2 separate regions of the Homo sapiens genome follow, and region 2 is reported to be linked to region 1. Evidence: microRNA targets listed by miRTarBase, many of them from high-throughput screens and not tested one by one. Region 1 holds a microRNA gene; the other region holds the end of a gene's coding sequence.

Evidence for each region. Region 1 holds the annotated microRNA hsa-miR-6731-3p (UCUAUUCCCCACUCUCCCCAG, at 2,982-3,002, opposite strand). A microRNA usually pairs through its seed, bases 2 to 8, with sites in the 3' UTR of a target mRNA and lowers its output. Matches are read on the target gene's strand: a 7mer-m8 pairs with bases 2 to 8, a 7mer-A1 pairs with bases 2 to 7 and ends in A, and an 8mer does both.
Region 2: the mRNA of WSB2 is a reported target of hsa-miR-6731-3p. Seed matches in the 3' UTR shown: 7mer-A1 at 1,027-1,033.

Annotation. Positions count from the first base shown.
Region 1 is chr1:24,916,364-24,920,753 of GRCh38, forward strand. It overlaps MIR6731 (microRNA 6731), which reads right to left and starts at 3,053; the gene lies at 2,982-3,053. It overlaps RUNX3 (RUNX family transcription factor 3), which reads right to left. Exons shown (of 5, transcript NM_004350.3): 3 at 2,877-2,981.
Region 2 is chr12:118,030,715-118,035,104 of GRCh38, reverse strand. It overlaps WSB2 (WD repeat and SOCS box containing 2), which reads left to right. Exons shown (of 9, transcript NM_018639.5): 8 at 12-119; 9 at 747-2,418. The coding sequence ends at 909. It overlaps RFC5 (replication factor C subunit 5), which reads right to left. Exons shown (of 11, transcript NM_007370.7): 11 at 2,871-3,923. The coding sequence ends at 3,827. Among named protein-coding and RNA genes, the nearest start is that of RFC5, 16 kb to the right of the region's middle.

The sequences.
Region 1 (4,390 bases):
CCCTTCCAAGTGGCCCTCACTTCCCGCAGCCCCCGGGTCGGAGCCCCCAGGGTGTGCTGACAGTCACCTTGGGCAAAAGGTTTTGCGCCCTGGCCTCTATCCTCTCCTGGGGTTGCCCAAGAGATCAGTTACTGGGGACTTTGCACAGGGCCTGACGCAAGGGAGGGGGTTGCTCAGTGACCAGGAGCCGCTGAGCTGGTCCCTTCACTCTTACAGATGGGGACGCTGAGGACCCGAAAGGCCAAGGATTTGTCCAGGGCCAAAGACAAAGGAGTGGGGCTGCAACCCAGGGTATGGGGGGGGACCTGATCTCAGGGCCAGGATATGCCAGGGACAGGAACAGGCAGGTCCTAAGGATGGGGGACCTAGTAGACTGCCCCCCGACTCCATCTCTGCTCTGTTCTGTAAATAAAACCACTGATCCAGCCGCTGCCGGGGCCCAGAGAGGGAGGTCACCTGTCTCAGGTGGTGCAGCAAGCCTGGCTTCTGACGCCGTGGGTCTCCAGGCCCAGCCTCTGTCCCTCCCTCTTGTTGCCTCGTCCTGAGCCACGCATTTACCTTCCAGCTCACCCCAGAAGGGGCCATCTCAGGTCTGGGAGACCCAGGCAGGGAAGAGCAGGCAGGGGATTCTGCTGGAATCTCCCACAGGCAGGGCTGAGTCTCCATGCTCATCCAGGGGTCCCAGCAGGGCAGAGTGGGCGGCTCTGGGGTGGGCTGGGCTGAGCATGGAGGGCTCTCAGAGGGGCCAACCTTGCCCGGTCCCTTGGATCTTCCCACCAAGCGTCAAGACCCCGTCCCGTGCCTCCCTCTTTCTGGAGTGGCTCCCCTCTTTCTGGAGTGGCTTCTGAGTGCCGCATCCCCACCCAGAGCCCAACTGAGGCTCCTGTCCATGCTGACCCTGCCCCTGGAGACATAGGGCAGGGCTGCCACCTCCTTCAATGGAGACTTGATACCTGCACCTCTATTACCAAGGCAGCCACCCAGCTGCTGCCCATGAGAGAGCTCACCGTTGACTAATGGTGGTGGTGGGAGTGCAGGAAGGGGGCTGGGTACTGAGGACGACAAAACGCTGCGGACCCAGTGACTCATGGGACCCCTCTGTGCTACGGCCACGTGCTGTCCACATGTCGCCCCTGATCTCCAGGTCCGCAGGGTGGGTGGCATCATCACACTTCATGGAGGAGGGAGCTGAGGCCCAGAGAGGTCAGTGACTTGCCCTAGGTCACACTGCAGATAACAGCCCTGGCTAAAGTGACGGATCCCTTGCTAACCCCCACCGCTAAGTGCTTTCTATAGATTAAGCCACTGTTTCCTCGCAATAGCATCATGAGGTAGCTGCTTGTGCGAATATCATTTTTCAGTTCAGGAAACTGAGGCACGGAGATGACTAGCCCAAGGACCCACAGCCAGGAAGGCTGGCTTGGAAACTGCTCTCTACACCATGGTGGTCTATGGCTCATGAGGGCTTCCCAGCCATCACCACCTTGAGACTCCTGGAGTCACTGATCCAGTTCTCAGATGACAAAACTGAGGCCACAAAGAAGACATGACTTGCCTAGGGTCATGAAGCCCAAGGCCAAGGGCATGGGCTGGTCTATGTCTGATCTCAGCAGGAGGGAACCAGCAGGAGTGTGGCCAGGGCAAGTGCTGGCTGGGAGCTGACGGTGCAGGCCTGAGGATGCGTGCCGGGGCTCAGGGCTGGCAGAGGTGACCCTGAGAGCCCTGGAGGGAAACTCTTCCAGGGCTGCTGGACTCAGCTCCAAGCCTTTCCCAAGTGGCCAGATGCTGGGATGGGCCCAGGAATTGGATGATGGGGTGTCAGGCCCAGCTGACTCCCAAGAAGGGAGGGGCCAGCCCAGGGCTAGGCCTCCTGCCCCAGGCCTCCTGCCCCAGGCCTGCTCAGCCTAGAATCTTGCCTCTGGGAAGACTGAAGCCTGGGGCGCCTTCCTGCTCCTTGCACAGCATTAGGTCCTATTCAGGTACCCAACTCCCTCAGGCCTGGATTCTCTCCTCACTGGAACTTGGGTGACCCCTCTGGCTCTGCTGTCATCAAGATCCCATTCAATAGTGACTGCTAAAAGGTCTTCTAAACTACAAAGGGTCACATTTCTGAGAAAGAGAGGGGTGGGCCAACCTTCAGTGCACCAAGCTGAAAATGCCTTGGGGAGGTGGGATGGAGCTCAGGAAGCTGGCTGGCTCTATTTCATTCATTCATTCATTCATTCAGTCAGTCAGTCAGTCAGTCATTCATTCATTCTGTGGACACAGAGCCTCAGCCTACCCTCCCACTTCCCCAGCCTTAATCTGACCTTCAGCAAGCAGAGAGAATTAAACACAAACTCGCTTTGATGGACCAGAACTCCCTGCTCATAGGGTCTGGGTGCCCGGACTCTGGGTGACCTGAGCAAGTCACATGCTAAGATTCAAAGACTCAGTTTCCAAGGAAGAGGCCTGGCCTCACAGCCAGACCAGCCCCTGACTTTTGATCACTCCTGCCCTCCATGCATCCCTCAGCCACCCGCAGAGAAGCTGGGGGCAGAGTAAAGCAAGCCTGGCTCAACCTCCACCCAGAAACACACAAGCACCCGACAAATGCCATATCTGAAAGCTTTCTCCATCCTTTTCCTTTCCTTGACTCCCTCAGTAGTCTCCATGGACAGTCATCTCCACTCCCAGCCTCCTCGCTGGCCTCCCACGGTCTCAGGCTAAGCCCAGAGGGTTTAGGGGTTTGCCAGCAGGCACGCAGTGTGTGGGGGCACAGAGCCAAGGACTGCAACCCCCCGAGGAGGGCTCCATCTGTCTGACCTAGCTGCTGTCCTTCCCGCACTGGACCCTCCTCCCCCGCGCAGGGGCTCAGGGGGCTCGGTGGCACTTACGTCTGGGCTCCCGGGGTCCGTCCACGGTCACCTTGATGGCTCGGTGGTAGGTCGCCACTTGGGTGGGGTTGGTGAACACAGTGATGGTCAGGGTGAAACTCTTCCCTGGGGAGAGTGGGGAATAGAGGCAGGTGGTTGGCACCTGGAGCTTCCACAATACCCTGCTCTCCCACCTGTATCTACCCCTGGAAGCCCCTAACTGTCAAGAAGGGGCACTCTGTCCTCTTTGAACATGGGCAGAAGATAGGGCTCTGGGTGAAGTTCAAGCTCTTGGGCTTGGCATTCAAGGCCCCTGGGGGTCTGACGCCAACTTTGTCAACCCCCCGCCCCATGCCGTGACCACCCTGGCTCATGTTCCCCTCTTCTTGGCCTTTCTGCTGTCTCTTCTATTCAGAGACCCACACGATTTTGTGGTGGGGAGCAGGATGGGTATATTCTATTTTCTGAAAGTAATTGGTGATCTTTGTAGAAAAATTCAAGAACATACAAAATATAAATAAAGAAGAAAAGACACCCCCCCCCCACGGTTCCACTAGCTGGAGATAGACACCGTTACCATTTGGTGTTTTCCCTTTCAGCTCTTTTTGTATGGGTTTGTATATTTACACAGTCGCAGTGGTACTAAAATACAGATTTTCATACTGTTTTTTTTTTCATTTAACCTCACATCAGAAGCACTTTCCCACGTCATTAAAACTCCATAAACTTCGTTTTTAATGGCTGCAAAATATTTCAACTCAAGGAAGCCTCCTCATCTTTTATTTATCTACCTCCTTACTCTCGGGTATTTACATCGTTGCTAATTTCTTATTGATGTGTGCAGCTGGAGCTGAAAAAGGACTGATTTGGGAGCTGCAGACATTTCTTCTGTAGACACAACTGTTATTTCCAGAATGTTCTATTTTTAGATAGACATTTGGCTCCAAAGTCTCCATTCAAAATTCCTGAGAGGGGAAAAAACTTTTAAAATACTACTTTTTTTTTTTTTTACCATTTAAAATAAAATGAAAGTGACCTTCTGTTTATAAAAATCTTTGTCTGCATCTCTGCTTATTTCCTTAGAAGAGATTCCAAGAAGCGGTGAGTGATTTCACGGCAGCAGAGGGTTGGGACATATTACGGGCGCGGATCCCTCTTGGAGTGAGATGACTCTCCGGAGAGATTTAGTCGTCACCCTCGCGTGTGAGGCTGCGTCACACCCCAGGGATGTGTCTATCAAGATGGAAGATCTTTTACACGCTCTTGATTTTGTTTGCCTTTTTTTCTATTACTAGTGAGAATGAAACTTTTTATATGATTATTATCCATCATAATCCAACACAAATTACTGCTTCATGTTCTTTTACTTTCCTGTGAAGGTTTTAGTGCCTTTTAAAAATTGCTATATATTAAGCTTGTTAATACTTTCCATGCTGTATTTGTGGCCATCAGTTTCCCCGGGCACAGGCCTGCACATTTTGCCTTCACACGCTGGGTGGTTTTTCATTTTCACTTCTATTTCTCGTTCTTCTATC
Region 2 (4,390 bases), not on the chromosome of region 1:
TCCCCATCCAGACTCCTCAGGATCTGGGCCCTGGAACTGAAAACTCCCATTGCATTTGCTCCTATGACCAATGGGCTTTGCTGCACATTTTTTCCACATGGTGGAGTCATTGCCACAGGGTATGTATTTGTTAGCTGAACAGATGGGTGGTGCTTTCTGCTGAGTATACCATGGAGCTTTTTAAGGAAAGAAACCATCTAGAATTTTCTTGCCTATGAGGAAAGCTTTAAGGCAATTCAAGATTATATAAAACTCAAATGATCGATTTTGCTAATAACGGTGTCCCATTTTCTCTGAATATTTAACCTAAATGTAATTAAAGATCTGTAAGTCATGCCACCTAATGGGCCAAGTTCACAAGGGAGAATAAAATTGAGATGATGCATAATATATGGGAAACCATTTAGGGCTAAAAGACCACTTTACAGGTAACATCTATAATTCAGTAGGTGGCACTCTTCCCCCTTATACTTTTGAACTAACTGTGGTCAGATTTAGAAAGGGCTGTGCCGAGAGAGAGACAGAGAGAGCGCTTTGGTATCACAGGTGTCTTGAGTTTTTCTAATCCTATCAGCAGCTTTAATTATTCAGCACCACAATTTTACATCCATTTCCACAGTCAGGGTTACATTTCACTCTCCGAAGTCTCCTGCTCTTTGCAGTCAAAACAGAAACATGAGTATTCATCCTCATGAAAACATGAACATCCAAGCTCTGTCTTAGCATCGGTTTCTGTTTCATTTTAGGACAAGAGATGGCCACGTCCAGTTCTGGACAGCTCCTAGGGTCCTGTCCTCACTGAAGCACTTATGCCGGAAAGCCCTTCGAAGTTTCCTAACAACTTACCAAGTCCTAGCACTGCCAATCCCCAAGAAAATGAAAGAGTTCCTCACATACAGGACTTTTTAAGCAACACCACATCTTGTGCTTCTTTGTAGCAGGGTAAATCGTCCTGTCAAAGGGAGTTGCTGGAATAATGGGCCAAACATCTGGTCTTGCATTGAAATAGCATTTCTTTGGGATTGTGAATAGAATGTAGCAAAACCAGATTCCAGTGTACTAGTCATGGATCTTTCTCTCCCTGGCATGTGAAAGTCAGTCTTAGAGGAAGAGATTCCACTTGCACGGCAACAGAGCCTTACGTTAAATTTTCAGTCCAGTTATGAACAGCAAGTGTTGAACTCTTTCTGCTTGTTTTGATTCAAAGTGCAGTTACTGATGTTGTTTTGATTATGCAACTAAGTAGGCCTCCAGAGCCTCTCTAGTGGCAGAGCAGCTCACACTCCCTCCGCTGGGAACGATGGCTTCTGCCTAGTACCTATCCTTGTGTTTCTGATGCAGTGGTAGCATTGGTTCAAGTTCTCTCCTGCTGTGGTCAGAGTTGCTTCGATGTTGGCCAAGTGCTTTTCTTCTTGGGCTCCCTTCTGACCTGCAGGACAGTTTTCCTGGAGCCATTTGGTATGAGGTATTAATTTAGCTTAACTAAATTACAGGGGACTCAGAGGCCGTGCTCCTGACCGATCCAGACACTATTACTGGCTTTTTTTTTTTTTTTTTAACAATGGTGTGCATGTGCAGGAAATGACAAATTTGTATGTCAGATTATACAAGGATGTATTCTTAAACCGCATGACTATTCAGATGGCTACTGAGTTATCAGTGGCCATTTATTAGCATCATATTTATTTGTATTTTCTCAACAGATGTTAAGGTACAACTGTGTTTTTCTCGATTATCTAAAAACCATAGTACTTAAATTGAACAGTTGCAAAGATGTCTTAATTGTGTAAAGAATTGGTGTAGTCATGACTTTAGCTGATACTCTTATGTACGAGATCTGTCTCTGCTGTTTAACTTCATTGGATTAATCAGCTGGTTTCAACTCTACTGCGAAACAAAAATAGCTCCTTAAAAGTACTGTTCTCCTTCAGTGGCATGTAGTTATCTAATCAAGACACCTCATTCAAACAAAACCTGCCTTAGGAAAATTTAATATATTTTAAATTATTTTAAAAGAAATACAACATCTTATTCTTTAGCTTTCTTAATCGGTGCTTTATGGAGGCCAGTGTAACGTTACATGACTCGTTGAGAAAGTTGAGGAATTTCCTCTACCACCTTTGTTGCTTGAAGAAAAACATGTCTTTTCAAAATGAGAGGCTTTCATTGAAGAAAAGAAAAAAACAACAGTTAAAAGCTTTTGGCTCTCTGTTTCATTTTTTTCCATTAAGAAAAAAAAAAGTCCCCTTTTAAAACAAGCAGGGCTGGGTGTGACGGCACATGCCTGTAATCCCAGCACTTTGGGAGGCTGAGGTGGGAGGACTGCTTGAGCCCAGGAGTTCAAGATCAGCCTGGGCAACAGAGTGAGATAAGACCCAATCTTTATTTAAAAAATAAATAAATAAATAGCCAAAAAAACTTAGTGTGGTGCTGGTGTGCATGGTAGCCCCAGCTACTCAGGGGGCTGAGGATGTGGTGGCATTTACCTGTGGTTCTGTGGTTCCGGCTACTCAGGAGGCTGAGGTGGGAGAACTGCTCGAGCCTGGGACATGGAGGCTGTAGCGAGCCACGATCGTGTCACGGTATTCCAGCCTGGGTGACTGACAGAGCATGATCTTGCCTCAAAAAATAAACACATAAAACAAGTAGTACAGCAGAAGAGCTGGGAATGGATTGGCCAACGTTTACATTTCATGGTTATCTTGAAGTTCCAGGTACAGCAGATGCTGAGCCTCTGGGTGGTTTGAGGCCTGGTTGGCCATCAGATATTTAGCTTCATACTTTGCCGCTGTCCTTAAGGGGGTGAGTCCTCCATGAACAAAGGGAATAGTGACTTTTTCCATTTGACAGTTTAAGAATTTGACATTTTATAAAGAACAGCATCTAAAGAAAGTTTATTCTGTGATATTAGAGACAGAAGGTTTTCATATAAATGCAAGTTTGACAAAGTCAGCATCTTTCTAGCTGTCTAAGGAAGAGTCACTTGTAACACAGCCAGCCAGGAGGCTGCTTTGTTTTTTATTATAAAGAACACTAACACAAATGCAGCATGATTGCTGTAAAATAAATGTGAAATTTGTACAAAAGTCCCAGTCCTTCCGCAGTTCTAGGTTTACAGTCAGGCTCAACCTTACTTGCCCCGCTCCTGCATGAAAACAAGTGCGTTTTATACAGCCTCTGCCACCCAGTGGCATAGTTTAAGGCTCTATATTATATTTAAAATTAAGGTTTTTTTCCTATCATACACATCAATTTGGAACCTGCTGGTGACTCTTCTACCACAGAGGGTAAATAAAAAGACCAGTTTTTAAAGTAAGAGGATTCAGCTCATCTTATAAAAGTATAATAGTTTCGGCCAGACGTCCATTAACATCTGTTTAAATTAGATACAGACACAATGCCAAATATTAGAATCATAAATGTAATTTTGGAGATAATGTTTACCTTGAGTAGGAAGACACTTGGACCATATTAAATTTGAAAGTCTTCTGTTCCAGACCAAAATGGGGTAGGCTAATTCCCTGTCATCCAAGCAACTAAAAGGTAAAAACCTTATAACTTTAAAATAAAAAAGGTTATTTTTTTCCCCTATAAAAGACAGGCAGTATGAGTTAATACATTAAAATTATTTTGTACATCCCTGCTCCAAACAACCACAAAAATGGTACTTTTTAAATGCCTGCCCATCCTCTCCTGGAAGGGGGTTTTTCCAAGATTCGGGGTGACTGATTCATCCCACAGCCCCAGGCAGCAGTTTATCCTGGAACTGTCCTCTGTTCTCCCATCACTGCTGAGCCCTGAGAATTGTGAATGGCCCTCAGAGCATCTAGGCCTCTGCAACAATCAGGTCTCTGGTGACTTGAAATGCAGCAATGAGGGAGCTCAGCTGGATCTTCTCGTTGGTGCCAACAGAAAGCCTGTACCTAACAGAAACCAAACACAGGGTAAGAAAAAAGACACCAAACACAGCTGCCTTTTCTTAAGGGACCAAGAGATCTAGGGCTGAAAATCTGTTGAAGGAGTGGGGATGGGAATTGATAGAACAAATGTGCCCTGGATGGCAATCTTGTATGTGTCCCCCTAACATTTTCTTCTCTGCCCTACACATTGATTTATAAATGTGATGTTTCAAACTTGTAAGGACCGATTCAATTTTAAAAATTATTAGGTATCAGGCCGGGCGTGGTGGTTCACACCTGTAATCCCAGCACTTTGGGAGGCGGGCCAATCACTGGAGGCCAGCCTGGCCAACATGGTGAAACCCCCGTCTCTACAAAACAAACAAACAAAAAACAAAAATTAGCTGGGCATGGTAGTGCATGCCTGTAATCCCAGCTCCTCAGGAGGCTGAGGCAGGTGAATCGCTTGAACCTGGGAGGCAGAGGTTGCA